7 linked regions of the Homo sapiens genome follow. The protein of the gene in region 6 purifies or fractionates together with the protein of the main gene of each other region. This does not show direct contact. Each region holds a gene or a part of one and is shown on either strand. Other genes may lie near its edges.

What was found.
Region 1: the proteins of SPATA24 (region 6) and RBM26 purify together in Homo sapiens (affinity purification with mass spectrometry; one large-scale study listed by BioGRID and IntAct). This does not show direct contact.
Region 2: the proteins of SPATA24 (region 6) and GGPS1 purify together in Homo sapiens (affinity purification with mass spectrometry; 2 studies listed by BioGRID and IntAct, with this or other methods). This does not show direct contact.
Region 3: the proteins of SPATA24 (region 6) and BTBD1 purify together in Homo sapiens (affinity purification with mass spectrometry; 2 studies listed by BioGRID and IntAct, with this or other methods). This does not show direct contact.
Region 4: the proteins of SPATA24 (region 6) and DCAF17 purify together in Homo sapiens (affinity purification with mass spectrometry; 2 studies listed by BioGRID and IntAct, with this or other methods). This does not show direct contact.
Region 5: the proteins of SPATA24 (region 6) and ISCA1 purify together in Homo sapiens (affinity purification with mass spectrometry; one large-scale study listed by BioGRID and IntAct). This does not show direct contact.
Region 7: the proteins of SPATA24 (region 6) and PM20D2 purify together in Homo sapiens (affinity purification with mass spectrometry; one large-scale study listed by BioGRID and IntAct). This does not show direct contact.

What each region holds. Positions count from the first base shown.
Region 1 is NC_000013.11:79,371,242-79,375,844, forward strand, and holds part of RBM26 (RNA-binding protein 26), read right to left. Parts: intron 690-4,603; coding exon 601-689; intron 1-600. UniProt on the Homo sapiens protein: May be involved in the turnover of nuclear polyadenylated (pA+) RNA.
Region 2 is NC_000001.11:235,341,801-235,346,135, reverse strand, and holds the end of GGPS1 (geranylgeranyl pyrophosphate synthase), read right to left. Parts: intron 4,126-4,335; coding exon 3,364-4,125; 3' UTR 1,604-3,363; downstream 1-1,603. UniProt on the Homo sapiens protein: Catalyzes the trans-addition of the three molecules of IPP onto DMAPP to form geranylgeranyl pyrophosphate, an important precursor of carotenoids and geranylated proteins.
Region 3 is NC_000015.10:83,028,672-83,033,274, forward strand, and holds part of BTBD1 (BTB/POZ domain-containing protein 1), read right to left. Parts: intron 1,658-4,603; coding exon 1,465-1,657; intron 58-1,464; exon of another isoform or gene 1-57.
Region 4 is NC_000002.12:171,436,406-171,441,008, reverse strand, and holds part of DCAF17 (DDB1- and CUL4-associated factor 17), read right to left. Parts: intron 1-4,603. UniProt on the Homo sapiens protein: May function as a substrate receptor for CUL4-DDB1 E3 ubiquitin-protein ligase complex.
Region 5 is NC_000009.12:86,268,461-86,273,063, reverse strand, and holds part of ISCA1 (iron-sulfur cluster assembly 1 homolog, mitochondrial precursor), read left to right. Parts: intron 1-951; coding exon 952-1,057; intron 1,058-4,603. UniProt on the Homo sapiens protein: Involved in the maturation of mitochondrial 4Fe-4S proteins functioning late in the iron-sulfur cluster assembly pathway. Probably involved in the binding of an intermediate of Fe/S cluster assembly.
Region 6 is NC_000005.10:139,395,779-139,399,293, forward strand, and holds the end of SPATA24 (spermatogenesis-associated protein 24), read right to left. Parts: intron 1,649-3,515; coding exon of another isoform or gene 1,575-1,648; exon of another isoform or gene 1,500-1,574; intron 1,366-1,499; coding exon 1,263-1,365; intron 1,178-1,262; coding exon of another isoform or gene 1,152-1,177; coding exon 1,022-1,151; downstream 1-1,021. UniProt on the Homo sapiens protein: Binds DNA with high affinity but does not bind to TATA boxes. Synergises with GMNN and TBP in activation of TATA box-containing promoters and with GMNN and TBPL1 in activation of the NF1 TATA-less promoter.
Region 7 is NC_000006.12:89,148,792-89,153,394, reverse strand, and holds part of PM20D2 (xaa-Arg dipeptidase), read right to left. Parts: exon of another isoform or gene 4,131-4,603; coding exon 3,982-4,130; intron 1,610-3,981; exon of another isoform or gene 1,489-1,609; intron 353-1,488; coding exon 210-352; exon of another isoform or gene 206-209; intron 1-205. UniProt on the Homo sapiens protein: Catalyzes the peptide bond hydrolysis in dipeptides having basic amino acids lysine, ornithine or arginine at C-terminus. Postulated to function in a metabolite repair mechanism by eliminating alternate dipeptide by-products formed during carnosine synthesis.

The sequences.
Region 1 (4,603 bases), on a different chromosome or scaffold from region 6:
TTTAATTCTTGTAACTTAACTTTCTATCCTACCATCAGACAACTGAAAAAACTGAGCTTAATATTCAGTACTTTAAATCCCTTTTAAATGAAAAACAATCTTTTTAAAGCCTTAACCCTTAGTCTTATTACACATTGGCAACTATACAATTAGGCATCTGTAGATAAAGGCATCTGTATATAAGACTTAGAGTACATATAGAACATACTATCCCGTACATATAATCTCACTTACAGACATGTATCACATGCATTGTATTCTAAGTGCTTTTGAAGCCTGAATGAGAAAAACAATTTAATCACACTAAATGGAAACAGCAGGCAAAAAAAAAACACCCACACATTAAGATTCTACTGGAATCTGAAGTTAGGAATAAAAAGATAAGCAGCTAATATATGTCAAGCACTGTTCTAAACTCACTCCCAAGATCTACAAATCTGACCTAGATTTTCATGGTAGAAACGGACCTAGTTATATTTTCCTAGACCAATAAAAGAGTAGATATTACTTGCCTCTGCGTAAAAGATAACCCAAGTCTAAACATTTGTATAAAAGATAACTTACATCGAAACACTGAGTATGGTTCAATGAACTGCTCACCTATTTTCCCTGTATCGGGAGCTTGACTGGGGAGGACTGTGATTTAGCCTTCTAGAAAACTTCTTCTCTCGCTCTTCCTCCTTAGTGATCTGATTAAAAAAAAAAAAAAAAGTGTACAAGTTTAGTAATTATTCCACTGTTAAATAGCCTTAGATAGGGCTGGGCACAGTGGTTCATGCCTGTAATGCCAGCACTTTGGGAGGCTGAGGCGGGTGGTTCACGAAGTCGGAAGTTCGACACCAGCCTGGCCAACATGGTGAAACCCTGTCTCTACTAAAAATACAAAGATTAGCTGGGCACAGTGGCAGGGGCCTGTAATCCCAGCTACTCTGGAGGCTGAGGAAAGAGAATCGCTTGAACCTGGCAGGCAGAGGTTGCAGTGAGCTGAGATCGCGCCAGTGCACACTCCAGCCTGGGCGACAGAGTGAGGCTCTGCCTCAAAACAAACAAACAAACAAAAAAAAGCCTTAGACACATTACTGCTTTAATGACTTTATTAACATTAACATTTAATTAACATTAAATAAAATTTAATTAACATTAAAATTAGTTTATATAACGTAGAAGCAAAATTGTCATCTTCTAAAATTATCCAAACAAAGTAAATTTCTCTACTAAGTATAATCATTTAACTATAATGAAATGATTACATTGGTGAGAAAACATTTTAAGCAAGTATGCTCATTTAACATAATTAATGGAAATCCAATTTTATTCCTCTTTCAAAAGTCTAACATATATTCATGTTTTGGTTTCGTGGACTTGGTGTGGTACCAAACACATCAAGGAATATAGGAGAATACATTAGAACTCACCAAGTCATAAATACATACACACACACAAACATATACATGTTTATATATATAAATATATATTTACATATTATATATATTTATGTATCATATTGTAATTTATTATATATTTTATATTATATATAATTATATGATATATATTATAATTATATGATATATATTTATAATAAATATTTTATATAAATATATTATATATTATATAAATATAAATATATTTATAATATTTTATATGCTATATAAAATATATCTTATATATTACATATTTTATATAATATATAAGATATATCTTATATATTACATATTTTATATAATATATAAGATATATCTTATATATTACATATTTTATATAATATATAAGATATATCTTATATATTACATATTTTATATAATATATAAGATATATCTTATATATTACATATTTTATATAATATATAAGATATATCTTATATATTACATATTTTATATAATATATAAGATATATCTTATATATTATATATTTTATGTATTATATATTTATATAAATTTTTATATAAATATATAAAATATATAAAAATATATAAATATATATAAATATGTATATGTTTATGTGTGTATGTATTTATGACTTGGTGAGTTCTAATGTATTTATATATTTATATATAAATATATAAAAATATAAATAAATATATATAAATATAAAATATATATTATATATAAATAAAATATATAAATATATAATATATATTATATATAAATATATATAATATATATTATATACTATATATAAATAAAATATAAATATATATTATATATTATATATAAATATATATAATATGTATAAATATACAAATATATATAATATGTATAAATATACTTATTTATATATATTACTATATATATTTATATAATATATTTATATATTACTATATATATTTATATAATATATTTATATATTACTATATATATTTATATAGTATATTTATATATTATATATTACTATATATATTTATATAGTCTATTTATATATTTATATATTATATATTACTATATATAATAATATATAATATTTTATATATATATATTACTATATATAATAATATATAATATTTTATATATATATATCTGGGAAAACAATATATAAGGTGAAATAGTTCTCCAGTTTCTCACAGCAGCATGACAGCTATATATTTCTGTTTCCTACAAGGTGCCTCCATTCACATTATATAGCTACTAGAAAGCAACCTTGGAAAATATTCTCAGTGCTACTTTCTCCAGACTATATTGTTGAGAATAATGGTCCTCAACAACAGGAACGACAGGAATCACTGTTTTTCTAGGTAATTAGAAAAAGGGACTTAGAGGTTGAACAAATTCAGGAAATATCGTGCAAGTGGCTTCTATAAATAAGATAGGGCTCAAGATTTTGTGTTACTGAGAACCATAAGATATTCTCATGCAGGTAGTCTACGCACAGGGTACACATGTCCCAGTTTATGCCAGCTGTTCCAGCATCCTTTTGATAAGGGCTTCTGACTGTCAGAATGTACCACTTTATGCTGGGCACAGTGGCTCACACCTATAATCCCAGCACTTTTAAAGGCAGAGGTGGGTGGATCACTTGAGGTCAGCAGTTTAAGACCAGCCTGGCCAACACGCTGAAATATCATCTCTACTAAAAATACAAAAATTAGCTGGGCATGGTGGCACGCGCCTGTAATCCCAAAAGGGGATTACAGGAGGGATACTTGGGAGGCTGAGAGAGGAGAATTGCTTGAACCCAGGAGGCAGAGGTTGCAGTGAGCCACTATGGGGCCACGACACTCCAGCCTGGGCAATAGACTAAGACTCCGTCTCAAAAAACAAACAAAAAAAAGTGTGCCACTTTAGATGAGAAATCAAATGGAAATCCTATTAACAGACCAAACTAGGAGAAATAATCTTTAAAGCATTCTTTCAACAGTTTGCCTTTTTAAATTCAAGTACTTTCGTACTCTTTCCACCTATTCCAGCTCTCCTCCCAGACCAGACAAAAAACCGGGTACTAATACGACCCTTCTGATGCACTCTTTCCCTTCTATTTCCTCAATGCACTTTTGCGAGTTATCTAACAGATCACCATATTCCACAGTACATGCCCATCTGCAAACTTTTAGTATAGCCACAGCATTTTAAACGTAGATTGCCATCTGGCATTTCAACAATTCTGAAAGATCAGGGATAAGTATCTCCCACAATTGGTTGAAAAAACAGGAAGTATTATTACATCAATAGATAATAAGACTAAGGCTTTGCTACTAACTCGATTTAGGGGAAGACTACTCAAGCCAAGGGACTGTGATTTACTCAAGATTTTCTGAGAATTAAAGCATACATATAATATATATATTATATATATTTTATACATTTTTTATATACTATATATTTATATTTTTATATATTTATATGATATATATAAATATATATTTATATATATCATATAAATATATATTTATATTTTAAAAATAAATAATATATATTATTCATATTTATATATATTATATATATATATTTTTTTTTTGAGACGGAGTTTAGCTCTTGTCACACAGGCTGGAGTGCAATGGCATGGTCTCAGCTCACTACAACCTCTGCCTCCCAGGTTCAAGCGATTCTCCTGTCTCAGCTTCTCGAGTAACTGGGATTACAGGCACCTGCCACCATGCCTGGCTAATTTTTGTTTTTAGTAGCGACAGGGTTTCACCATATTGGCCAAGCTGGTCTTGAACTCCTGACCTAAGGTGATCCACCCGCCTCAGCCTCCCAAAGTGCTGGAATTACAGGCGAGAGCCACAGTGCCCAGCCAAAGTATAATTTTTCACAGCAAAAATCTGAAACCAAACCAAAGTTCCACCAGTAGGCAAAACTTGAATAAACCATTGCATATCTCTATGTTGCATAAGCAATTGCCAACACAATATACACCGTCCCTTTCTTCCTAACAGAACCCTTATACTGTTAGGTATGAAATAGGTTCAGTTATAAATTACATTTCTGGTCTTCCCAGGCAGATAAAACTGATTGGGATGTTACATGTGGGTATGTGTATATGAAAATATACAAATATACATGTGTGTAAATATATTCAGATAGAGATATAAATATATTTGAGATTACATATTATAATATATATTTTATTGCATAATAAAATGTATTATTTATATGTAATCTGGAAAAAG
Region 2 (4,335 bases), on a different chromosome or scaffold from region 6:
AGAGCCAGGTACTTTGATCTGTATTCAAGGCCCTGGCATTCCTCAGTAAATGCTTGAGGAAAACATGTAAAGTATCTAGTACCCGGTAAGATACTTCATAAGTATGTATTTCCTTGCCCTCTTTCTTCCTCTCAGTACACTGATTAAAAAAGAATCAATGGATAGATCTTGAGATTATCTAGATGAGAGATATCTAGAAGGGAAGATGGAATGGGACAAGGCCCTCAATAGACAGGGGGAAATTCAAGCACATGAGAACCTAGGGCAGGTCAAACTCTTCTTGAAAATAGCAGACTATGTAAAGACAGACCTAAAGTAGAGGGAAGGAAAGTTAGGAGAGTTTCTATTTAGTGGGAGAAGAGAGGAAGAAGAGAAGAAGGGGATCTTTAATAAGACATCTCTGACACCGGGCGTGGTGGCTCACGCCTGTAATCCCAGCATTTTGGGAGGCAGAGGCGGGAGGATTACCTGAGGTCAGGAGTTTGAGACTAGCCTGGCCAACATGGTGAAACCCCGTCTCTACTAAAAATACAAAAATTAGCTGAGCGTGGTGGCACATGCCTGTAATCTGAGCTACTCGGGAGGCTGACGCAGGAGAATTGCCTGAGCCCAGGAGGCGGAGGTTGCAGTGAGCTGAGATCGTGCCACTGCACCCCAGCCTGCCAGACAGAGCGAGACTCTGTCTCAAACCAAAACAAAACAAATAGAAATCTCTGCTAGGAAAGATTAGATGGAAAATAAAGGCGTTGCAGAGGCTGGAATGTGTAAACTCACAATGGTTCCAACAGCAGTTGTGAAAATGTTCCCCAGCAGCACTGAGCAACACGGATGCACAAAGAACGTGGATGTTTGGATTTATCCAGGACTGGGAGTTGGCAAGATAAGAATGGGCAAGGAAAGGAGAAAAGTGATCTGAGAGTGAATGCTCTTTAAGTGTCATTGAAGTGAGTGACTATAGAGTACAGGTGAGGTAGAGAAGGAAGTAAAGTAGAAAGAAGTTCACAGAGTGAACAGAGAACAGTTGATGGTTTTAAGATCTTGCCAAGTTCAGAAGGTGGTTTATGGCAACATAACTGGCATTCATTTTTCTGTGTTAATAGCTATGACTACAGATCAAGTGAAGAGTTTTGATTATTCTACAGGTAAAATGACTGTTAAAAGTCCCCAATTTGGCTGGGTGCGGTGGCTCATGCCTGTAATCCCAGTACTTTGGGAGGCCGAGGCAGCTGGATCACCTGAGGTCAGAAGTTCAACACCAGCCTGGCCAACATGGTGAAACCCCATCTCTACTTAAAAAAAAAAAAAAAAAAAAAATTAGCCAGGCAACATGGCAGGCATCTGTAATCCCAGCTACTTAGGAGGCTGAGGCAGGAGAATCGCTTGAACCCGGGAGGTGGAGGTTGCAGTGAGCTGAGATCACGCCATTGCACTCCAGCCTGGGCAACAAGAGTGAAACTCCGTCTCAAAAAAAAAAAAAAAAATTCCCAATTCAATGACAAACATTTCTGTTATTGACAAAGGCAAGATAAAATTAACAAATGAATAATGAAGAACACCAGGCCAAAATTAATTTGATAGGCAAGGAACAAATCTACTTAAGCAATTTTTATACTTAAAGGTAGACATTTTAATTTGTTTCTATAGTCAGTGTTAGATTTTTAAAAATGCTTTTTAAAAGTATGGGTTCATAAAGTTCAACTTTCCATACTATAACATCAATAGCCATGATTTTAACAGGTTTCCTTATCACTATTAAAATGGGAGATTTAAACTATTTTAAAAGTTACTAAAGACAGCACCCAACTTTTCAAAGATTTAGGTTGAATGCTTGGGTGAGGATTTCTCATACAAATATATGGTAAATAGATCCTAAGTAACATACTATAGAACCAAGCAAAACATGTTTCTAAGGGAAACATAAAACTTTCATTTTGGGATGTCAACAAATCAAATATTGAAATCAGCTTTTTTTTTTTTTTTTTTTGTCCTACCTCTTGGGCCACAGATGACTTCAGTGGCTTGGGTGTAGAAACTACAGAAAACTGGTAACCAGGTCAGGGTTAAGGCACTAAAAAGCTAATTAGTGTTTGATATTAAGCCTTTGGTTACTTTTCAGTCAGGCCCTCTCAGGCTAACACTTTCCTTTAATCAGGGCGATTAAAGATGCCTACTCACTTTCCATTCAAGCACCTACTGTCTTCAAGTCGGGGTGGTGATGTGGGCGGGAAGGAAAAGCGCATTTTTCCATGCTTTTGTACTTAAGGTAAGAAAACAACCCTTTTAAGATTGTCACTATCAATGATGGGGAAATATAATAAGGTTCAAAGGCTCCCTTCTAAAATATCCCATACTCTCTTTTTCCGCTTCCCAATTGGAAAGGGAATGCTGTACCCATATACTAACCAGTTTGGGGCACATAAATGTTACAAGGGAGAAAAAAAGATTTAGACTAGCATGTGAATTTCATCAAGCAGAGACACCTTGGTTAAAAAGCAAAACTTGTGGGGTGGAGAGGAAGGAAAAAAGGAAAACCTAAGAAAAAGGACCGGAGTGCTCACTGTTTATCATTATCAGCCCTTTTTTTTGAGACGGAGTCTCGCTCTGTCACCCAGGCTGGAGTGCAGAGGCACTATCTCGGCTCACTGCAAGCTCCGCCTCCTGGGTTCACACCATTCTCCTGCCTCAGCCTCCCGAGTAGCTGGGACTACAGGCGCCCACCACCACGCCCAGCTAATTTTTTGTATTTTTAGTAGAGACAGGGTTTCACCGTGTCAGGATGGTCTCGATCTCCTGACCTCGTGATCTGCCCGCCTCGGCCTCCCAAAGTGCTGGGATTACAGGCGTGAGCCACCGCGCCCAGCCCATTATCAGCCTTTTCATAGAAGACTTCAGTGAGGGTGTTTCCGGGGGGAAAAGTGAGATATTCCTTACAGCAGCGTTTAGGAAAAAAAGAGATTTGTGGTCTTTGGTCCAGCTAGCTAATAGAAACTGGCTTGGAACTGCCCAGATAGTACAGTTAGAAAGTGTATGGATAAAAATTCCTGGAAGCAAGTCTTTTTTATTGACGGAATAAACACAACATTGATGGTAGTAGGATAGAGTTGGTGGCAATGTCCTGTCACTGCAATTATGACATTCAAATCAGACCTACATAACTGTGGCTGCTTTTGATTCTTTCAACTTTGAATTTTGATTATCTGTACAGAGGGGCTTCTAAATGAAAACGAATTCACTTGCACCACCCCTACTCACCTATTTACTGTTTCTGGAGAATAACAAATTTTTTAAAAGGTGGTAAGGCTAAAAGACAAAAAAAAGATTAACTAAAATAAGCTATGAGGTCCAATCAAGAATGGCTTAACATTATTCATTTTCTTCTTTGAACATCTTACTTAAGTGTTTTACTAAGGCTACTAGCTCAGGGTTCCCACCACGTGCATCAATCTGTTTATAGGCTTTAGCTTCAAGCTCTTTAAGGGTATTACGAGTGTATTCAAAAGAACCTACATCCTCAAGATAATGTACACAGTATTTTTTTATATCTATGTTTTCTGTTCTCTGGCGCAAGATATTCTGCACCTGGGTGCTTTCAGGCCTTGACCAAATAGCATGAATAGTAGGAAATGAGAACTTTCCCTCTGTCAGATCTTCACAAAAACTTTTGTTTTCACTATATTCTTTGGAGTGTAGATTAGCATAATCATCCCTAATTTGGAAAAAGAGCCCAAGTGTATTAAGTAGCGGTTTTAAATCTTCTTTGTAATCAGAGAACAACTGCATGAGACCTACTGCTAATCCAAACAGTCCACCTGTTTTCTGCAGCACCATAGCTTTATATTCTTCTTCAGTGGGACAAGTGTAATTATCCCTCCAGTAAATATCTAGGCCTTGTCCCTGATGGAGTTCCAAAAGCTGGCGGGTAAAAAGCTTCACTGCATCTGGGTGATCAAGGGTTAAGACTTTCTCCAAGCCAAGGAAATACACGTAATTGGCAGAATTGATGACAGATGGGATTCCATAGATGCTGTGGGCCACTGGAAAGCCACGTCGGAGTTTTGAGTTGTCTTCAATATCATCGATGAGTAAACTGGCATTATGCAACATTTCTGTCACTTCAATAATAATCTAATAAAAAAATTGAAAATTTCACTTATTTGAACTATTCAAAACTTACTCAGTTTAATTAACAGATTATGAAAGTCTCAGGTGTGTTAATTTTCACAACTAATAAATATTTAGCAACCTCAATATAAAATAATATCTTGCATGAGGACTAAATTCAATCAAGAACTAGGAATATTTTTATGCGACAGCTATTAATTTCTTGGGGATTAA
Region 3 (4,603 bases), on a different chromosome or scaffold from region 6:
GGTAATTGGTCTATTCAGGCTTTTCTTCTTCAGTCAATTTTGATAATTTATATTTGCCTATAAAATGATCCATTCCATCAACATGTTCAATTTATTAGCACAGAATAAACCCAGAATTAAAATAAAAATGTCAGCATATAATTATATTCCCATTTTTGCTTCTAAATGTGAATGTTTATTACCTTTGCCAGAGGTTTATTTATTTTATTGGTCTTTTAAAGGAACCAGCTTATGGATTTATGAATTCTACTATTTCTAATTCATTAATTTCTACATTTATCTATTTACTTTCTCTTTTCTTATAGTTCTTTTGCTATTTGTTTTCTAGCTACTTGGGCTGAATGCTTAAATCATTTATTTCTACTCTATTTACTACAAGTAGTTAATTATTACTTTTTCTTTGTGTGCAGCTTTGGCCTCATCCCATAATTTTTGCATATAGTTATTGTGAATTATTATTAAATAGTCTACAAGTACATTTTTAATTTCCATGTTAACTTAAGATTTATAATAGTCCCACATCCAACCAGATTTTTCTGTTTTAACAAACTTGTTAATTTCCAGTTTTATACTGAAGTGCTATTAAATAAATGAAAATCCAAAAGTCATGTTTTGTGAAAACCGGCACTGATTCTATTTTGACATTCAACCTAAAGAAACACAGTACAGCAAAGACAATTTCTTCAACAGGATTATACGCATGCATTTTTCAAGATTCTTGATTTTTTTCTCAAGGCTTTTATAAATGTATACTGAGATACTTTCCCTGCAACATCTATGCAAAGAAAAAACTCACACTAAACATAGTAAGGTTACATTTATTAATTGTAGCCCTAAGCCTGTAAAAATAACGTTTGATCAATTAAGGTCTAGAACTCAGCCCACTGGCAGTGGTGATCCAAACAAAAATCATGTAACAGCTGGGCGTGGTGGCTCACCCCTGTAACCCCAGCACTTTGGAAGGCTGAAGCAGGTGGATCACTTGAGGTCAGTAGTTCGAGACCAGCCTGGACAACATGGTGAAACCCCGTCTCTACTAAAAATCCAAAAAGATTAGCTGGGCGTGGTGATGCATGCCTTACAGGTTACTCAGGAGGCTGAGGTGGGAGGATCGCTTGAACCCAGAAGGCGGAGGTTGCAGTGTGAGAGATCCCACCACTGCACTCCAGCCTGAGTGACAGAGCGACTCCATCTTGGGGAAAAACAAAAAAATCACGTAACAGAAGGTCCAACCCAATCCTTTCTTACTCTATTTTTTTCTTAAGAAGTCACCCTCACTCATAAATCAGTGAGGAGGGCAGGATGCCTCAGTGACTTCTTGACTCCTATATTAACTTAACTTAAAAGTGTATTAAATGAAGTATAAAATGAAATGTTGGTTAATTATCTCCCATAATATATAAAAAAGGCCAAATGGTAACTGCTACCCCCACTCTACCCCCGCATCCCCAATATAACAGATACCTGATTCGATCACTCGTCCCACTGTAACCCCAGCGGCTTTCTACTTGCTGGAATCTATTGATGCAGCATTCCTTTCCCCTGAGACAGCATCTTGGTCGGTCAATGTATTCAACTCGGGGTTTAGGGTTGACAGTAAAATGAAGAAAGAGGTTTACCACTTCACGATCTGACAAAATTCCAGATTGAGCAGGACCTGTGGAAATAAAAACATAAGCCTAAAAAAAGGAATTTGATTTCAATTCCTAACTTTGGAATTCACTTAACGTAAATTCAAATCTAGAGGACGTAACATAAAAATAGGGGAAAAAAATCTTAGCATATATAATTTTTGCATATATTTTAAGGTTTCAATAAATCCATTTGAGGTTAAACACATTAATTAAAATGTTAAAAGCATTAATTAGTCAAAACTTAGATCCAGGAATAAATGCTATTCCTCATGGATGCCAGGAATCCTCCTTTCTCACCTTATACAAAAATCAACTCAAGATGGATCAAAGACTTAAATCTAAGAAACCATAAAAATTCTAGAAGATAGCATCAAAAAAACTCTTCAAGACATTGGCTTAGGTAAAGAATTCATGACTAAGAACCCAAAAGCAAATGCAACAAAAACAAAAACAAATGAATGAGACCTAATTAAACTAAAAAGCTTCTGCATAGCAAAATAAATAATCAGCAGAGCAAACAGACAACCCACAGAGTGGGAGAAAATATTTGCAAACTATGCATCCAACAAAGGACTAATATCCAGAATCTACAACTCAAATCAGCAAGAAAAAAAAAACAAATAATCCCAGCACAAAGTGGGCAAAGGACATGAAGAGACAATTCTCAAAGGAAGCTATACATACGTGTGCATGTGTCTTTATAGCAGCATGATTTATAATCCTTTGGGTATATACTCAGTAATGGGACGGCTGGGTCAAATGGTATTTCTAGTTCTAGATCCTTGAGGAATCGCCACACTATCTTCCACAATGGTTGAACTAGTTTACAGCCCCACCAACAGTGTAAAAGTGTTCCTATTTCTCCACATCCTCTCCAGCATCTGTTGTTTTCTGACTTTTTAATGATCACCATTCTAACTGGTGTGAGACGGTATCTCATTGTGGTTTTGATTTGCATTTTGCTGATGGCCAGTGATGATGAGCACTTTTTCATGTGTCTGTTGGCTGCATAAATGTCTTCTTTTGAGAAGTGTCTGTTCATATCCTTCGCCCAGCAGACTTGGAACCAACCCAAATGTCCATCAATGATAGACTGGATTAAGAAAATGTGGTACATATACACCATGGAATACTATGCAGCCATAAAAAATGATGAGTTCGTGTCCTTTATAGGGACATGGATGGAGGTGGAGACCATCATTCTCAGTAAACTATCACAAGGACAAAATACCAAACACCGCATGTTCTCACTCATAGGTGCGAACTGAACAGTGAGAACACTTGGACACAGGAAGGGGAACATCACATACCGGGGCCTGCTGTGGGGCAGCGGGAGGGGGAAGGGATAGCATTAGGAGATATACCTAATGTAAATGACAAGTTAATGGGTGTAGCATACTAACATGGCACACGTATACGTATGTAACAAACCTGCACGTTGTGCACATGTACCCTAGAACTTAAAGTATAATTAAAAAAAAAAAGAAGATATACAAGCGGCCAATACACATAAGAAAAAATGCTCATCACTGATTATCATACATAGGCAAATTAAAACCACAATAAGGTACCACCTTACTCCTGCAAGAATGGCCATAATTAAAAAATAAAAAAAGAAAAATAGATGTTGGCGTGAATATGGTGAAAAGGGAACTCTTTTACACTGCTGGTGGGAATGTAAACTAGTACAACCACTAAGGAAAACAGTATGGAGATTCCTTAAAGAACTAAAAAGGACTGGGGGTGGTGGCTCATGCCTGTAATCCCAGCACTTTGGGAGGCCGAGGCAGGCAGATCCCAAGGTCAGGAGTTTGAAACCAGCCTGACCAACATGGTGAAACCCCATCTCTAACAAAAATACAAAAATTAGTTGGGTGCAGTGATGTGCGCCTGTAGTCCCAGCTACTCGGGAGGCTGAGGCAGGAGAATCACTGGAACCTGCGAGGCAGAAGTTACAGTGAGCCGAGATCGCACTACTGCACTCCAGCCTGGGCAACACAGCGAGACTCTGTCTCCAAAAAAAAAAAAGAACTAAAATTAGAACTACCATTTGATCCAGCAATTCCACCACTGGATACCTACCCAAAGGAAAATAAGTCATTACATGAAAAAGATACTTGCACGTACATGTTTATAGCAGCACTACCAACTGCAAAAATATGGAGCCAACCTAAATGCCCATCAACCAACAACTGGATGAAGAAAATGTGGTATACATACACCATGGAATACTACTCAGCCATAAAATGGAACGAAACAAAGGCTTTTGCAGCAACTTGGATGAACTTGGAGGCCATTATTCTAAGTGAAGTAACTCAGGAATGGAAAACCAAATACCATATGGTCTTACTTATAAGTGGGAGCTAAGAAACTATGAGGAGGCAAAGGCCTAAGAATGATATAATGAACTTTGGGGACTTGGGGGGAATGGTAGGAGGGAGGTGAGCGATAAAAGCCTACATGTTTGGTACCATTCCCCAACATGGTGAAACCCCATCTCTACTAAAAACACAAAATTTAGCCAAGGGCGGTGGTGGGTGCCTGTGATCCTAGCTACTAAGGAGGCTGAGGCAGGAGAATCACTTGAACCTGGAAGGTGGAGGTTGCACTGAGATGAAATTGTGCCACTGCACTCCAGGCTGGGTGACAGTCTTACTCTGTCTCAAAAAAAAAAAAAAAAAAACAGAATAGAATTGCATTCAAATGATAGATGGGAATAACTGTCAACCTTGAGCTTTCTACCCAGAAAAATATCCTTCAAAAATGAAGGCAAGCTGGGCTCAGCAGTGTGCCCCTCTAGTCCCAGCTACTCAGGAGGCTGGGGTGGGAGGATTGTTTGAGGCCAGAATTTTGAAGCTGTGAATAGCCACTGCACTCCAGCCAGGGAAACACAGCAGGGCCCCATCTCTTTTTTTAAAAAAAATGGTAAGATAAAGATGTTTTTAGACAAAAGAAAAAAAGAGTTGAGA
Region 4 (4,603 bases), on a different chromosome or scaffold from region 6:
GGGTTAGAACAAATCTCAAAAGCTGACTATTCTCTCTAAATTCTGGTTTCTGGTCCAAGACGAAAACAGCCTGGAAGTGCCACCCGTCTGTCCTCATAGCACGAAAAATGCTGAACAATCTGAAAATCCATAATTATTCTTAGATCCATCAGAGAATTCAGGTCACAGGGCAAACTGCTGCCTCCAAAACTGGAGAGAAAGGTGGATACTGACAATTACAGCTTTCCAGGAACATAAGCCCAGGAACAAGCCACTGGAGCCAACAATGGGGGAGACAAAAATAAGCACACTAGAGGAAATTTTAACCTCTAATACCTACGGCTACAACAAACAATAATCATAGCCGAACTCCTACTCAGATAAACATAAAATCTCACTCTAAAGGCCTATTTAATTCTTTTTATCCAATATTATCTTAAATTTGTAAAATTTTTTGAGACACTGTCTCGCTCTGTTGCTCAGGCTGGAGTGCAGTGGCATGCTGACGGCTCGAGCAGCCTTGACCTCCTGGGCTCAAGCGATCCTCCCACCTCATCCTCCCTGGTAGCTGGGACTACAGGTGTGTGCCACCATGCCCAGCTAATGTTGATATTTTTTGTAGAGATGGGGTTTTGCCATGTTGGTTAGGCTGGTCTCAAACTCCTAGGCTCAAGCAACCCCAGACGTTGGCCTCCAAAAGTGCTGGGATGACAGGAGTAAGCCACTGTGCCTGGCCTATCCAATATATCATATCATATATAGCCCTCAACCAAAAAAATGACAAGGCATGCTAACAGGCAAAATACAAAAGTTTGAAGAAACAAAACAAACATCAGAACTGGATTCAGATATGGCAGAGATTTTAGAGTTAGCAGACCAGAAATTAAAATAACAATGATTAAGCCAGGTGCGATGGTATGTGACTGTAGTTCCAGCTATACTCAGGAGGCTGAGGGAGGAGGATCACTGGAGTGCAGGAGTTTGGGGCTACAGTGCACTATTATCATACCTGTGAAAAGCCACTGCACTCTAGCCTGGGCAACAAAGCAACGCCTCATTTCTTGTTTTTTACTGTTTGTTTGGGGTTTTTTGGGGTTTTCTTTTTTGAGTCTCGCTCTGTTACCCAGGCTGGAGTGCAGTGGCATGCAATCACAACTCACTGCAACCTCCACCTCCCAGATTCAAGCAATTCTTCTGCCTTGGCCTCTGGAGTAGCTGGGATTATGGGTGTGTGCCACCATGCCCAGCTAATTTTTGTTTTTTTAGTAGAGATGGGGTTTCGCCATGTTGGCCAGGCTGGTGTCGAACTCCTAGCCTCAAGTGATCTGCCCACCTAGTCCTCCCAAAGTGTGAGATTACAGGTGTGAGCCTCCGCACCCAGTCACAAGACCTCATTTCTAAACTAATTAATTAAATAGCTGATTAACAGGATCAGAGCTGGGAAAAGTGGACACCATGCAAGAAAAGATGGGTAAATTAAACACAGATAAAAATTCTAAAAAAAAAAAAAAAAAAAAAGGAAAAAAAAGAAATACTAGAAATCAAAAAACACCATAAGAGAAATGAAGAACGCCTTTAACAGTTATCAGTAAACTGGATGCAGCCAAGGACAGAATCAGTGAGTTTGAAGATAGGTCAACAGAAACTTCCCAAGCTGGGGCAATAAAAGAGGAAAAAGAAAGAAAAAGTAGAACAGAATATTCAAGTATTACAGGAAAATTGGAGAAGGTATAACATCCACATAATGGGAATACCAGAAGGAAGAAAAAGAGAAAAATAAATATTTGAAGTAATAATGGCTGAGAATTTTCCAAAACTGACAGATACCAAGCCCCAAATCTGGGAAGCATATTCAAACTGCAGAAAATCAAAAGTGAAGAGAAAATCTTGAAAGAAGCCAGATGAAAAAAAAGCACCTTAACTATATAGGGGAACAATAAGAATTAATTTGGATTTCTCTTCAGAGAGCATAAGAGCAAGCAGAGAGAGACATAAATACCTAAAGTGTTCTGGTGGCTCGTGTCTGTAATCCTCAGCAGAGGCTGAGGTGGGAGGACTACTTGAGGTCAGGAGTATGAGATCAGCTTGGGCAACACAGCACGACTGAGACCCCTATCTCTAAAAAAATTGTTTTAAAAATAGCCACATGCCTATAGTCCTAGCTACTTGGGAGGCTGAGATGGTCGGATTGCTTCAGTCCAGGAGTTTGGTGTTACAGTGAGCTATGATTGTGCCACTGCACTCCAGCCTGGGAGACACAGCCAGACCCTGACTTTGGGGGGGAAAAAAAAAGGCACAGATAGATTAAAAGTAAAGGAATGGCAAAAGATACAATGTGTAAACACTAAACAAAAGAAAGCTGGAGTAGCTATACTAATTTCAGACAAAGTCGAATTTGGCAAGGAACATTACCAGGGATTAAGTGGGCATAAGATAATGAAAAAGGTGTCAATTCTCCAAGAAGGCATAACAATATTTAATACATATGCATCTAACAACAGAGTATCAAAACACAATGTGGCAAACACGGATAGAAATGCAAGGAGAAATAGATAAATCCACTCACTATTATAGAGATTTCAATACCCATCAGTAATTAACACATCCAGCTGGCAGAAAGTTAGTAATTATGCATATACTTAAACTGAAAGGTACCATCAGTCAACTGGATCAAACAGAATATCTCATCCAACGACAGCAGAATACACATTCTTCTCAAGCTTACACGAAACGTTCACCAAGGTAGACCACATTCTGAGCCATAAAAGACACCTTAACAAATTTAAAAGACTAGAACTAATATAAAGTATGCTCTTGGGTCATAGTGGTATTAAACCACAAATCAATAAAACAATGATAACTGGAAAATCCCAATATATTTGGAGAGTGAACAACACACATCTAAATAACACATGGGTCAAAGAAGTCCCAGGAGAAATTTAAAAATATTCTGAACTAAATGAAAATGCACATACAACGTATCAACATTTGTGGGATGCAACAAAAACAATGCTTAGAGGAAAAGGTATAGCAGTAAGTGCATATGCAGAAAAGGAGAAAGACTTCAAATCGTAATCTAAGTTTCTACCTTAGGAAACTAGTAAAAGAAGAGCAAATTAAATCCAAAGTAAGCAAAGAAATAACAAAAATTAGCTCAGAAAGTAGTAAAATTGAAAACCAAAAATCAATAGAGAAAATCAACAAAACCAAAAGCTGTTTTTTTGAAAAGGTCAACAAAATTGATTACTAATATGAGAAATTAAAGAGTGGCTATCACTACCGATCTCATGGACGTTAAAACAATAATAAAGAAATATTATGAATAAGTCTAGGCTCACAAGTTTGGATAACTTAGATGAATTCCTTGAAAGACACCATCTATCAAAATTTACCCAAGGAGAATTAGATAACTTGAATAAGTCTGTATCTATTAAAGAAATGTAATCAATAATGAACAACCTACCAAAACAGAAAGTGCCAAGCCCAGATGCTTTCAATGGTTAATTCCACCAAGCATTTAAAGAAGAAATAACACAGCAGCAGTGATCAAGACAATGTGGTATTGACATAAGGACAGACATACAGATCAGTGGAACAGACTTGAACGTCCGGAAATAAATCCAAAAGTGTCTATGGTCAATTGATTTTTGACAAGGGTGGCAAGGCCTTGCAATGAAGAAAGAAAAGTCTTTCTAATAAATGGTGCTAGGACAAATGTATAGCTGCATGTTAAAAAAAATGGAGTTGGATACCTACCTTATACCCTATACTAAAATTAACTCAAAGTGGATCAACCACCTAAATATGAGCTAAAACTATAAACCCTTTAGAAAAAAACCTAGGAGCAAATCTTAATGACCTCAAATTTTGCAATGGATTCTTAGATATGGCACCAAAAGCATGAGTAATGAAAAAAATTTAGATAAATTGGACTTCATCAAAATTAACCTCTCTGTGGCTGGACGCGGTGGCTCATGCCTGTAATCCCAGCACTTTGGGAGGCCGAGGTGGCCGGATCACCTGAAGCTGGGCGTTCGAGACCAGCCTGACCAACATGGAGAAACCCGGTCTCTACCAAAAATACAAAATTAGCCAGGCGTGGTGGCGCATGCCTGTAGTCCCAGCTACTCGGGAGGCTGAGGCAGGAGAATCACCTGAACCCGGAAGGTGGAGACTGCAGTGAGCCGAGATCACGCCATTGCACTCCAGCCTGGGCAACAAGAGCAAAACTCTGTCTCAAAAAAAAAAAAAAAAATTAACCTCTCTGTTTCAAACAATAACATCAGGAAAGTAAAAAGACAATCTACACAATGGGAGAAAGTATTTGAAATCATATATCTGATAAGGGACTTGTATCTAAAATATGTAAGGATTTTTGTAAAAAAAAAAAAAAAAATTTACAAGTGGGCAAAATATCTAACCAAACATTTCTCCAAAGAATAACATACAAATGGCTAATATGCACAAGAAAAGATGCCTGACATCACTAGTCATCAGGAAAATGGAATCAAAACCACAGTGAGATGCTGTGAGTCACACATCAAGTGTTGACAAGAATGTGGAAAAATCAGAACCCTCATATACTGCTTATGGGAACATAAAATGGTACTACCACTTTAGAAAA
Region 5 (4,603 bases), on a different chromosome or scaffold from region 6:
AAACAAGAATTCGGCTTTGTAGAATCAGGAACTGCTGGTGAAATAGTACTTATGATACTTTTGCTGTATACAGTCACCTCTCCGTATCTGTGGGTTCCGCATACGTGGATTCAATCAACCATAGGTCAGAAATATTTGGGAAAAAAATAGAAGGTTGCATCTGTATTAAACATGTACAGACTTTCATTCTCTAAACAATACAGTATAACAACTGTTTATGTAGCATTACATTGTTACAGGTATTCAAGTCCTCCAGAAGTTATTTAAAGTACAGGGGAAGATGTATATAGGTTATATACAAATGCAGTGCCATTTGCATAAGGGACTTGAGTATCTGCAGATTTTTGTATACTCAGTTAGTCCTGGAACCAATTTCCCATGCATACTAAGGGATGACTGTATTTAAATGAAAAATCAGCTCAGCTCTAAGACAGAGAACTTAGGTAGATACTGTTTGAAAATTGCATTAATGTAAACATTGATACTTTTAAAGTGCTGTTTGGTCACTTTTTTAAACTTCTTTTGTCTGTATTGACTGCAGTCTTTTGCTTTCTGGTATTTGAGACTGTACACAAGTCTGCACTATAATTCAGATCCCATGTAGAGGTAGGATTGCCAGATGGTGGACTATGAACCCTGGTGAATCCTAACCATAAGGAAACATTCAGAGGATATCTCACAGAACAAGGTAGAGCAAAGACATTTTAAATAAAGTCCCAGGCTGGACGGGGTGGCTCCTGCCTTGTAATCCCAATGCTTTGAGAGGCCGAGGTGGAAGCGTTATTTGAGTCCACGAGTTTGAGACCAGTCTGGGCTACATAGTGAGACCCTGTCCTACAAAAAATAAGAGAAAGTCCATTTTGGTACGAGGAGGCTACTGTCACTTTATTAGTATAATTGTTTAATCTGTACTACTTTAAAACCAAGTTTATATTTTCACTTCTTTTTCAGGTAGGTGTAAAAGTTGGTGTCCGAACCAGGGGCTGTAATGGCCTTTCTTATACTCTAGAATATACAAAGACAAAAGGAGATTCTGATGAAGAAGTTATTCAAGATGGTGAGTTTTTAACAAACATTTTTTGGGCACATTGTTTTGCCTAAAATTATTAGCCTTGCACAGCACAAAGTAAAAAATAAGGATAGTAGCAGGAATTATGTAAATAATGCTCACTGTGTGTGTAGGTGTTGTTTGATGGAATTTCATGTATTAACTGATTTATACACAATGCTGAATGTGGGTGGTACCATATTATCCCTGTTTTTCTGATGAAGAAACTGAGGCACAGAGGGGTTAAATAGTTTAAGGTCATAATAAGTGGCCTAGTAAAATTCTTTCCAGAGACTGCTCTTAGTAACTAATTGATAAATTATTATATAAGCTTGTTTTAACTATGAAAGATCATCGTTGTGTCCAAAAAGTGAACCAGCCTTAAACCTCACAGTGAACCAACAGTTTTTGTGTAAGCAGTAGTTTTATATCTGTGTCAAATAAGTACGAGTTGAGCATTCCAATCCAAAAATCTGAAATCTGAAATGCTCCCAAATTCAAAACTTTAAAAGTGGGTGCTGACATGACACTCAGAGGAAATGCTCATTGGAGCTTTTTGGATTTGGGATGCTCAAGCAGTAAGTATAATGCAGATACAGTCATACATCACTTAACATTGGAGATACATTCTGAGAAATGTGACGTTAGACAAATATCCTGGGGTGTACTTAGACAAACCTAGACGGTCTGAGAAATGTGACATTGGACAAATATCCTGGGGTGTACTTACACAAACCTAGATGGTAGAGCCTACCATATGCCTCAGCTAGATAATATAACCTGTTGCTCCTAGGCTACAAACCTGTACTGCACGTGACTGTGCTGAATACTGTGCACAGTTCTGACACAATGGTAAGTATTTGTGTAAACGTACCTAAACAAAGAAAAAGTATAGTGAAATTTCTTTTATTATTATTATTATTATTATACTTTAAGTTTTAGGGTACATGTGCACAATGTGCAGCTTAGTTACATATGTATACATGTGCCATGCTGGTGTGCTGCACCCATTAACTCATCATTTAGCATTAGGTATATCTCCTAATGCTATCCCTCCCCCCTCCCCCCGCCCCACAACAGTCCCCAGAGTGTGATGTTCCCTTCCTGTGTCCATGTGTTCTCATTGTTCAATTCCCATCTATGAGTGAGAACATGTGGTGTTTGGTTTTTTGTCCTTGCGATAGTTTACTGAGAATGATGATTTCCAATTTCATCCATGTCCCTACAAAGGACATGAACTCATCATTTTTTATGGCTGCATAGTATTCCATGGTGTATATGTGCCACATTTTCTTAATCCAGTCTATCACTGTTGGACATTTGGGTTGGTTCCAAGTCTTTGCTATTGTGAATAGTGCCACAGTAAACATACGTGTGCATGTGTCTTTATAGCAGCATGATTTGTAGTCCTTTGGGTATATACCCAGTAATGGGATGGCTGGGTCAAATGGTATTTCTAGTTCTAGATCCCTGAGGAATCGCCACACTGACTTCCACAATGGTTGAACTAGTTTACAGTCCCACCACCAGTGTAAAAGTGTTCCTATTTCTCCACATCCTCTCCAGCACCTGTTGTTTCCTGACTTTTTAATGATTGCCATTCTAACTGGTGTGAGATGGTATCTCATTGTGGTTTTGATTTGCATTTCTCTGATGGCCAGTGATGACGAGCATTTTTTCATGTGTCTTTTGGCTGCATAAATGTCTTCTTTTGAGAAGTGTCTGTTCATGTCCTTTGCCCACTTTTTGATGGGGTTGTTTGTTTTTTTCTTGTAAATTTGTTTGAGTTCATTGTAGATTCTGGATATTAGCCCTTTGTCAGATGAGTAGGTTGTGAAAATTTTCTCCCATTTTGTAGGTTGCCTGTTCACTCTGATGGTAGTTTCTTTTGCTGTGCAGAAGCTCTTTAGTTTAATTAGATCCCATTTGTCAATTTTGGCTTCTGTTGCCATTGCTTTTGGTGTTTTAGACATGAAGTCCTTTCCCATGCCTATGTCCTGAATGGTAATGCCTAGGTTTTCTTCTAGGGTTTTTATGGTTTTAGGTCTAACGTTTAAGTCTTTAATCCATCTTGAATTAATTTTGGTATAAGGTGTAAGGAAGGGATCCACTTTCAGCTTTCTGCATATGGCTAGCCAGTTTTCCCAGCACCATTTATTAAATAGAGAATCCTTTCCCCATTGCTTGTTTTTGTCAGGTTTGTCAAAGATCAGATAGTTGTAGATATGCGGCGTTATTTCTGAGGGCTCTGTTCTGTTCCATTGATCTATATCTCTGTTTTGGTACCAGTACCATGCTGTTTTGGTTACTGTAGCCTTGTAGTATAGTTTGAAGTCAAGTAGCGTGATGCCTCCAGCTTTGTTCTTTTGGCTTAGGATTGACTTGGCGATGCGGGTTTTTTTTTTGGTTCCATATGAACTTTAAAGTAGTTTTTTCCAATTCTGTGAAGAAAGTCATTGGTAGCTTGATGGGGATGGCATTGAATCTATAAATTACCTTGGGCAGTATGGCCATTTTCACGATATTGATTCTTCCTACCCATGAGCATGGAATGTTCTTCCATTTGTTTGTATCCTTTTTTATTTCATTGAGCAGTGGTTTGTAGTTCTCCTTGAAGAGGTCCTTCACGTCCTTTTTAAGTTGGATTCCTAAGTATTTTATTCTCTTTGAAGCAATTGTGAATGGGAGTTCACTCATGATTTGACTCTCTGTTTGTCTGTTATTGGTGTATAAGAATGCTTGTGATTTTTGTGCATTGATTTTGTATCCTGAGACTTTGCTGAAGTTGCTTATCAGCTTAAGAAAATTTTGTAAAAGATCAAATGTGGTCGGGTGTGTTAACACAAGCCTGTTGTCCCAGCTACTCAGGAGACTGAGGCAGGAGGATTCCTTGAGTGTAGGAGTTCAAGAATGTAGTGCACTGGCCAGGCGTGGTGGCTCACCTGTGTAATCCCAGCACTTTGGGAGGCCGAGGTGGGTGGATCATGAGGTCAGGAGTTCACGACCAGCCTGGCCAACATGGTGAAACCCCATCTCTACTAAAAATACAAAAAATTAACTGGGTGTGGTGGCACACGCCTGTAGTCCCAGCTACTGGGAGGCTGAGGCAGGAGAATCGCTTGAACCCCAGGAGGCGGAGGTTGCAGTGAGCCGAGACCATGCCATTGCACTCCAACCTGGGTGAAAAAGTGAGACTCTGTCTCAAAAAAGAAAAAAAGACATCATAGTGCACTGTGTTCTTACCTGTGAATAGCCACTGCCCTTAAGCCTGGGCAACATAGCGAGACCTCCATCTCTTAAAAAAAAGAAAAAAAAAGGAAGAAGAAGAAGAAAATAAAACATGGTACACCTGTTTGTGGCAGTTACCATGCATGGAACTTGCAGGACTGGAAGTTGTCCGCGTGAGTCAGTGAGTGAGTAGGGAGTGATAAGTGAATGTGAAAGCCTAGGACGTTCCTCCGTAGTACTATAGACCTTATAAACCTTGTACACTTAGTCTTCAATAATAAATTAACCTTAGTTTACTGAAACTTTTTTACTTTGTAAGCTTTGGGG
Region 6 (3,515 bases):
GTGGACAGCTCTAGCTTTCAGTCTGCCTCAGCACCTAGAACAGGCCCTGGATACCGATGTGGGGTCCTACAGGAAGCTTCGAAGTAGCTTGTGGTCCCAGCTCCAAAGGCCCCTGCGGCCAGAACAGCCCTGTGCTCCCCCAGGTATTCACAAGGCCCTAACTTCAGCCCCCACAGCCTTAGGACCTGCCCTGGGGACAGGCGCTGGTGGGGAGGCAACCACCACCTGTCATTGTCTTACAACTGTGGGCACCACTTGCCCTTAAACTTCTGGCTTCAAGGTCCTGCTATGACTCAGGCCCCAGCTGGCCCTGGAGCAAGAGCACTGCCCCCTCCTGTGCACTTGGCCTCAAACCGACCCAGGACAGGCTACACTGGGCTAATCTGACCCCTGAAGTGGGTCCTCTGCCTGGGTGTGTCCCCATGATCACCTAGGGGGCACTCGGTGATGGCTTCTGAAAAAATGTTGCTGCTCCATCCCATCCAGCCCTGCCTGTGCAACTTGTGCAAATTGAGGTCCCTTCCCAGATTGTTTCTCCACCTTAAAACCACACACAGCATTGTCTTTTCTCTTCCTCCCATTGTGAAGCTCCCGTTTGGGGGAGGTGTCAGCAGGTGCAAATGCAATTTGCAGGTATAACATTATTGTCATGTGATGGAAACTGACTTCCCAAATTCCTTGTGGTTCTGGAACCCACTGTCTTTGAAGTTTCTGGTCAGGGCTTCCGGCCCTGTAGTCAAGTTGGGAAGTTAAATTTACCAGGACACTGGGAGTGGGGTGGAATATTACTGGGTAACCAGGGCTGTTTATATAGGAAGGGATTAAATACCCAAAGGAAGCGGTGGTGCCTACCAGACAACAAAGACCCAGCTCCTCCCCTAGGCTACAAGCCCCCACCTTGTGGACCCCTACCACTATCCAAGAGGGAGGGAAGTAGCAGGGGCTAGAGGCTGGGGACTCCCAGAGCAGAGAAGGCAGAGGCTGGGGATTACAGCCAGAGAACAGGAAAGCGGCGGCCATTTTATTTTTCCCTGGGATGCTGGTGGCTGCGGGCCTGACGTGTCCCTGAGGCTTTCTTATGCTTCTGGTCCAGCACCTGGGCCATGTAGCTCTCCTGCTGCTTCTGGATCCGGAAGTCAGACATGTGATTCCTGCAACGGAGCCGGCTGGTGGTGGGCTGTGGACAGCCAAGGGTAGGTAGGGGCCAGAGGTCTGGCTCCCCAGTGTCATCAACAACCCCCAGCCGGGCCCAGACCCCTCACCTGAAGATCTGTTTCTGCTGGCTGATAACTTGCTGCAACTCTTTAATCTCATTCTCTTTGCCATTAAGTATATCTTCTTGCTTTATAATGTGAGACTCAATCTCTGTGGGGGAGAGAGGCAGGGAGGAGGGGTGGTTCCCATCCCAGGGCTCCTTCCTGAGATAAGGCATTCCCTCACGGGGCTTTTCAGAGCTTGGCTCCCCACCCAAGAGTTCTCCATGAAGAACTGCTAATACCTTAGTATGAATGAGTTTATTATGCAGTCTTGGGGGAGTGCAGTGTTTGAGGATTGTTGTCAATGACTTCACAAGTCTATTCTGGACCAGAGGACCCACATGAGGGCAGGAGAAGGTCCTTGGAGAGAAGTGGGCAGGCCTGACCAAAGGCTGGAAGATGAATGGCGCCTGCCCTCAACTCCTGCAGGTCTTTACAGATGTTGCCTCCTTGGAGAAACTCTCCCTCATCAAAAAATTACATTTCCCAGTACTTCCTGTTCCCTCTTCCTGCTTTCTCTTTTTTTTTTTTTTGTATTTGAGACTGAGTCTTGCTCTGTCGCCAGGCTGGAGTGCAGTGGCATGATCTTGGCTCACTGCAACCTCCACCTCCTGAGTTCAAGCAATTCTCCTGCCTCAGCCTCCCGAGTAGCTGGGATTACAGGCGCCTGCCACCACGCCCAGCTAATTTTTGTATTTTTAGTAGAGATGGGGTTTCACCATGTTGGCCAGGCTGGTCTCGAACTTCTGACCTCAGGTGATCCACCCACCTCAGCCTCCCAAAATGCTGGGATTACAGGCGTGAGCCACCATGCCCAACATCCTGCTTTATTTTTCTTAACACTTTTACCTAACATACCATATACTTTACTCATCTGTCTTCTCCGCTGCTGGGATGTAAGGTCCACAAGGACAAGGATCTTTGTTTTATTCACGGCTTTATCCCTAAGGCCTAAAACAGCACCTGGCACATAGTAGGTATACAAAAAGTATATTTGCAGACCGAATGAACGGGATGTCCCTGGGGGTTTAGGACTCAGAAAAAAGACCTAGTTCAGTCATCCCAGTCCAAACAAACTTCCCGAGGGCTGGCTGGATGCCCAGCCTTGTGCTAGGGCTTCAGGGGTGGTGGGAGAAGATGGGAGTTGCCTCGATTTTCAGACCTGTTTCCTCATTTCAAAGATGGGGAAAGAGACAGCCCTATCCCACAGTGGTCTGGGGAGGACCCAGTGAGATAGTGGTGGCAAAGCCTACCCCCAAATTAATCGTACATTTGAGGCAAAGATGACTTTCTGAGGCAGGAGGATGGCTTGAGCCCAGGAGTAAGAGACCAGTCTGGGCAACATAGTGAGACCTCGCCTCTACAAAACTAAAAAAAAAAAAAACAAAAAACTAGCTGGGCATGGTGTTGGAACATGCCTATAGTCCTGGCTACTTGCTGAGGCAAGAGGATCACTTGAGCTCAGGAGTTGGGGGCTGCAATGAGCTATGACTGTGCCCCTGCACTCCAGCCTGGGTGACAGAGCAAGACCCTGTCTCTAAATAATAAATAAATAAATAAATGATAATTTTTCTGTGTTGGATCAAAATCCAAGGAGGCTGTAGGGATCTGGGGGTGCTTCATTTACATAACTGCCCCACATGGCACCTTGGAAAATTCTGATTCCTACAGAAAGAAAATCCTACTGTCTTCAAAGGTTGGACAAGGGGCCAGGCACAGTGGCTCATGCCTGTAATCCCAGCACTTTGGGAGGCCAAGGCGGGTGGATCACCTGAGGTCAGGAGTTTGAGACCAGCCTGGCCAACATGGTAAAACCCCGTCTCTACTAAAAATACAAAAATTAGCTGGGTGTGGTGGCACATGCCTGTAATCCCAGCTACTTTGGAGGCTGTGGCAGAAGAATTGCTTGAACCCAGGAGACGGAGGTTGCAGTGAGCCGAGATCGTGCCATTGCACTTCAGCCTGGGTGACAGAGCGAGATTCCGCTTCAAAAAAAAAAAAGGCCAGGCGTGGTGGCTCACGCCTGTAATCCCAGCACTTTGGGAGGCCAAGGTGGGTGGATCACAAAGTCAGGAGATGGAGACCATCCTGGCTAACACGGTGAAACCTTGTCTCTACTAAAAATACAAAAAATTAGCCAGGTGTGGTGGCGGGCACCTATAGTCCCAGCTACCTGGGAGGCTGAGGCAGGAAGATGACGTGAACCTGAGAGGCGGAGCTTGCAGTGAGCCGAGATCTCGACACCGCACTCCAGCCTGG
Region 7 (4,603 bases), on a different chromosome or scaffold from region 6:
TACAATAATCAAAACTGTCTTTCTAACCCTATATAGACAAACATCTTAGTATCCTGTCACATGAATTTCTGAAAATATGCTTAAAAATCAGAATATTCATATGAAGTACAAAAATATTTCCAAATTTTTAAAAATTGAATATTAAATAATTATACTGCACTGAACTATAGCAAGCACCATCTATTATAGAAGGTATTTGACATTCATACCATGAACTCTCCAGGTTGGTTTCATTTGCTGTCTGAACACAGACAGATTGTTATAGGCCAGCACAGCAGCATCTAATGCATTTAATCCTTCCCAGGGATAAGAAGCAGAATGAGATGCTTTTCCATAGTATTTCACAGTCACACTAGGAAATAAAAAATCATTTGAAATTACTTTTGTTATTATTGCTAAAGTAAGAAAATCCAGGTAGTCAGAATTACCCAACTACTATTCAAAATTAATTCACATTGCTGGACTTTTGATTTGCAAATTATTTGTAGTAATAACACTGCAATTTATTTATGTTAGTTATAGTTTATTATTAGGTAACATAGTGCTTGACACAAAGAAAGCATTCCCAAAAAAGAGAGAAAAAGAGAAAAGATTAAATGTATACACAATCTAATGCAAACATGCAATATGGTATCAGGTGCTGAAATTACAAAAAAAAAAAATGGATCCTGTATGTTTTTACACAGCATTGTGATGATTCTATTATCAAAAGTCTGTAAAAAATCAGAAATTCTGTCTTAAGAGGTGGAAGGTCAGGAAAGCCAGAAAGGAGTTACTATTTGAAGTGGGTTAAGACAACCTCTGAAAATCAGATTATATTCAATGTTATCACAAGATACCCTAGTATTAAAGCAGTTGTTCCTGACCAATATCCAATATTTTATTATGTTCCAAAATGCCTACATCACTAATATTTTACATTTTAATAAACTGTTAAGTTCTCACACCAGTCTAACTGCTCTAATACAATTAAAAAAAAAAAGATTAGAGAAAGGATTGCGTGTTGAATAGTTACTTATAAAGCTCTGTGATTGACGTGCTTTGATAACACTTTTTAAGCCTGATTAATAATACCCACATTTAGGTGATTAGAAAACCAATCTGGACTTATTTTAATGGGTTAGATTCAGGAGTCCTTAGAATGCTTATGATATTTCTTCTCAACTGATTCCAGACATTCTATTAGCAGGACAAAAATCAAGTAAAAACATCAAACACGTATTAGATTTCAGGATACTGTATTGTTATTTCCTTGATATATATCTTATCACCATGACCTTGAAATGAATTTTTTTTTTTTTGGTACTCATCTCCCTCTGTCACCCTGGCTGGAGTGCAGTGGCGTGATCACAGCTCACTGCAGTCACCACCTCCCAAGTTCAAGCAATCCTCCTCTGCCTCAGCTTCCCACAGATGAATAGCTGAGACCACAGGAGTGCTCCATGCCCAGTTAATTTTTTATTTTTTTTTGTAGAGACAGGTTCTCACCATGTTGCCCAGGCTGGTCATGAACTCCTGGGCTCAAGAGACTCTCCTGCCTTGACGTCCCTAAGTGCTGTGATTACAGGTGTGAGCCACCTGGCCTGGCAAAACCGGAATTTCATCACAACTGGTGATAAATATTATAAAAACGAGAAGGATTATATGGAATTATTTTCAAGACATACTATTTAATTTTAAAAAGCCAGAACAATATATTGAGTGGAATACTTGAGGAAAACCTTCTTTCACAATTTATACAGGATTCTATTTATGTCCCATAAGTACACCAAAAACACTCTGAAAAGGATACATACCTCTAGAAAAAGGACTGGATTTGGGAAAGGTGGTCAGCAGGATTGCTTTATCTTATTCATTAGAAATTTGTGGTTGGGCCTGGCGGCTCATGCCTGTAATTCCAGCCCTTTGGGAGGCCAAGGCGGGTGGATCACTTGAGGTCAGGAGTTCAAGACCAGCCTGGCCAACATGGTGACCCTGTCTCTACTAAAAATACAAAAATTAGCTGGGTGTGGTGGTGCTTGCCTGTAATTCCAGGTCCATGGGAGGCTGAGGCAGGAGAATCCCTTGAACCCAGAGGCGGAAGCTGCAGTGAGCTGAGATTGCGCCACTGTACTCTAGCCTGGGTGACAAAACGAGACTCTCTCGGAAAAAAAAAAAAAAGAATTTTTAAGAAAAGTGGATTAGTAATTTAAAAAAAAATGAATTCTTGATCTTGTTCTCTTTTTTTTTTTCTTTTTTTTTGAGATGGAGTTTCACTTGTCTGGTGGCCAGGCTGGAGTGCAATGGCACGATCTTGGCTCACTGCAACCTCCGCCTCCCAGGTTCATGCAATTCTCCTGGCTCAGCCTCCCAAGTAGCTGGGATTACAGGTGCCCACCATGCCTGGCTAATTTTTGTATTTTTAGTAGAGATGGGGTTTTGCCAAGTTGGCCAGGCTGGTCTCGAACTCCTAACCTCAGGTGATCCACCTGCCTTGGCCTCCCAAAGTGCTGGGATTACAGGTGTGAGCCACTGCACCTGACCTCTCTTTTCTATCTTAAAAGATGACCAATGAAGGCCAGGTGTGATGGCTCATGCCTGTAACCCCAGCACTTTGGGAGGCCGAGGTGGGTGAATCACTTGAGGTTAGGAGTTCAAGACCAGCCTGACCAATACGGTGAAACCCTGTCTCTACTAAAAATATGAAAATTAGCTGGGCGTGGTGGCGCACGCCTGTAATCCCAGCTACTCAGGAGGCTGAGGAAGGAGAATCACTTGAACCTGGGATGCGGAGGTTGCAGTGAGCCAAGATCGTGCCACTGCACTCCAGTCTGAGCAATTGAGTGAGACTCAGCCTCAAAAAAAAAAAAAAAAAAAAAAAAAAGAGATGATCAGTGAGAAAGCTAAGAAGGCAGATACTAGGAGAAGGTCTGGGGTCAAGTGCGCTGACTTCAGAACCAAGACCACGAAGCCTAACCTTAAGTCCCAGAAGGGTAATGAGCTGCAGAGCCTGCCTGCATATGCAGGCCCCTTCTAGTCAAAGGCAAGGGCAGAGATTTCTAATCCCCAGTGTTTTCTAGAGATGGACTAGTTTACCACCACCCTTGAAACCAAAGTTCAAAGATTCCTCCTACTGCCACAGTACCAATTTCCAGTGATAAGAAGGAAGATACCCTAATAGTTAAAATGATCACCCTTTGAAAACAGGGCCTGGTAAGGTGCTAAGAGGTGGGATACCCGGGTACAATCTAGAAGCACTGCTGTGATGGTTCTGCTATCATTCCCTCAGTACCGAGCTACTTCTGAGGAAAACACATGGTTTTGCTGAAGCAGCTGAGCACTGGCTCCTTGTGCCTGGACCATTAACTACTATAGTTACTACTATGGTTGAAATTTCTGGTATAAAAAATCCAAACCACTTCAATGATGTGTGCTCCTAGGTACTAAAAAGTGAGTTCTTCAACATAAAGAAAGACAAATAAAAGGTTTCAGCACCAGACAAATCGGAAAAGCACAGAATGAGAAGTTCCACAAAAACCATAGCTACTCATGTTCCATATTCTCTCTCAGGACATAATTTATCCTCTTTGCAAAGAACTCAAATTAAAGTAAATAAAATGGATAAGTGTGGTTTCTTCCCATAGCTAATAGAACGATCTCTCGCAAATCTATTCAGTTGCAAAGACAATTTCATATGAAAGGACAGATGTTTTCCAGACACCAGATTATTGACAGTTCAAAAGAGAACTTAATTGTCAACATGTTTGTTATTCCTATGGTTTCTAAGTGCTACTATTTTAATACTCCAATTATGAACACCATAATGAATCTCAATTAGAAGAGGCTTGCCAAATGTCACTCCATAGATCAAGACATCTTGTTATTGTCTTTCAATTTACTTCTTAAATATACAAATGTGGAGTTTTCGTCTCTGGTTTAGACATAAAAGTATTCTATAGCCTGTGTTCCCCTAAGAAGTTTATCTTCAACTTGATTACTCACTCATGTTCAGCCATATCTGGTAGATAAGCAGCATTCTCTTGTGATGGGTGGGCCATAAAAACAACATCAAGATTTGTAAAAGCCCCTGCTTCAATTAAATCAATTTTGCCACCACCATCTTCTTCTGCAGGGGTTCCCAGGACAACTACCTAGAAGGAAATACTCATGTCAGGGAAAAACAACAAAATCCTCATAGGAATATATCAAACAGGTTCACCTGCATATGTATTCACAATCTACATTAAAGTCCTTAACCTATTAAGACAGGTTTTGTTCTATGACGCTTACGCAATGGGCATCAACAAATGGTGCTAAATTAATCACAAAATGTACATTGTTATACCAACTTGGTGCAAAGTATGTACTAAAGACACTATAAAAAGCTTTTCCCAATTTTACAAGTCAACTAATGGCAAAGATAAAAAAAAATACTACAAGTTTAGTCCCTCAAAATTTGTTAGGATTTGTTTCAAAAAGGTTCCTCTCGACTAAGCCTTTCAGTGTATGTATGTATATAATTATTCTTAAGTACTTTACGAGTCAGAAACTTTCTGTTAACTTACTACTTATCCTCACAACAACCCTGTGAGGTAGGTGGGTGATCTCTATCATCATTTTACAG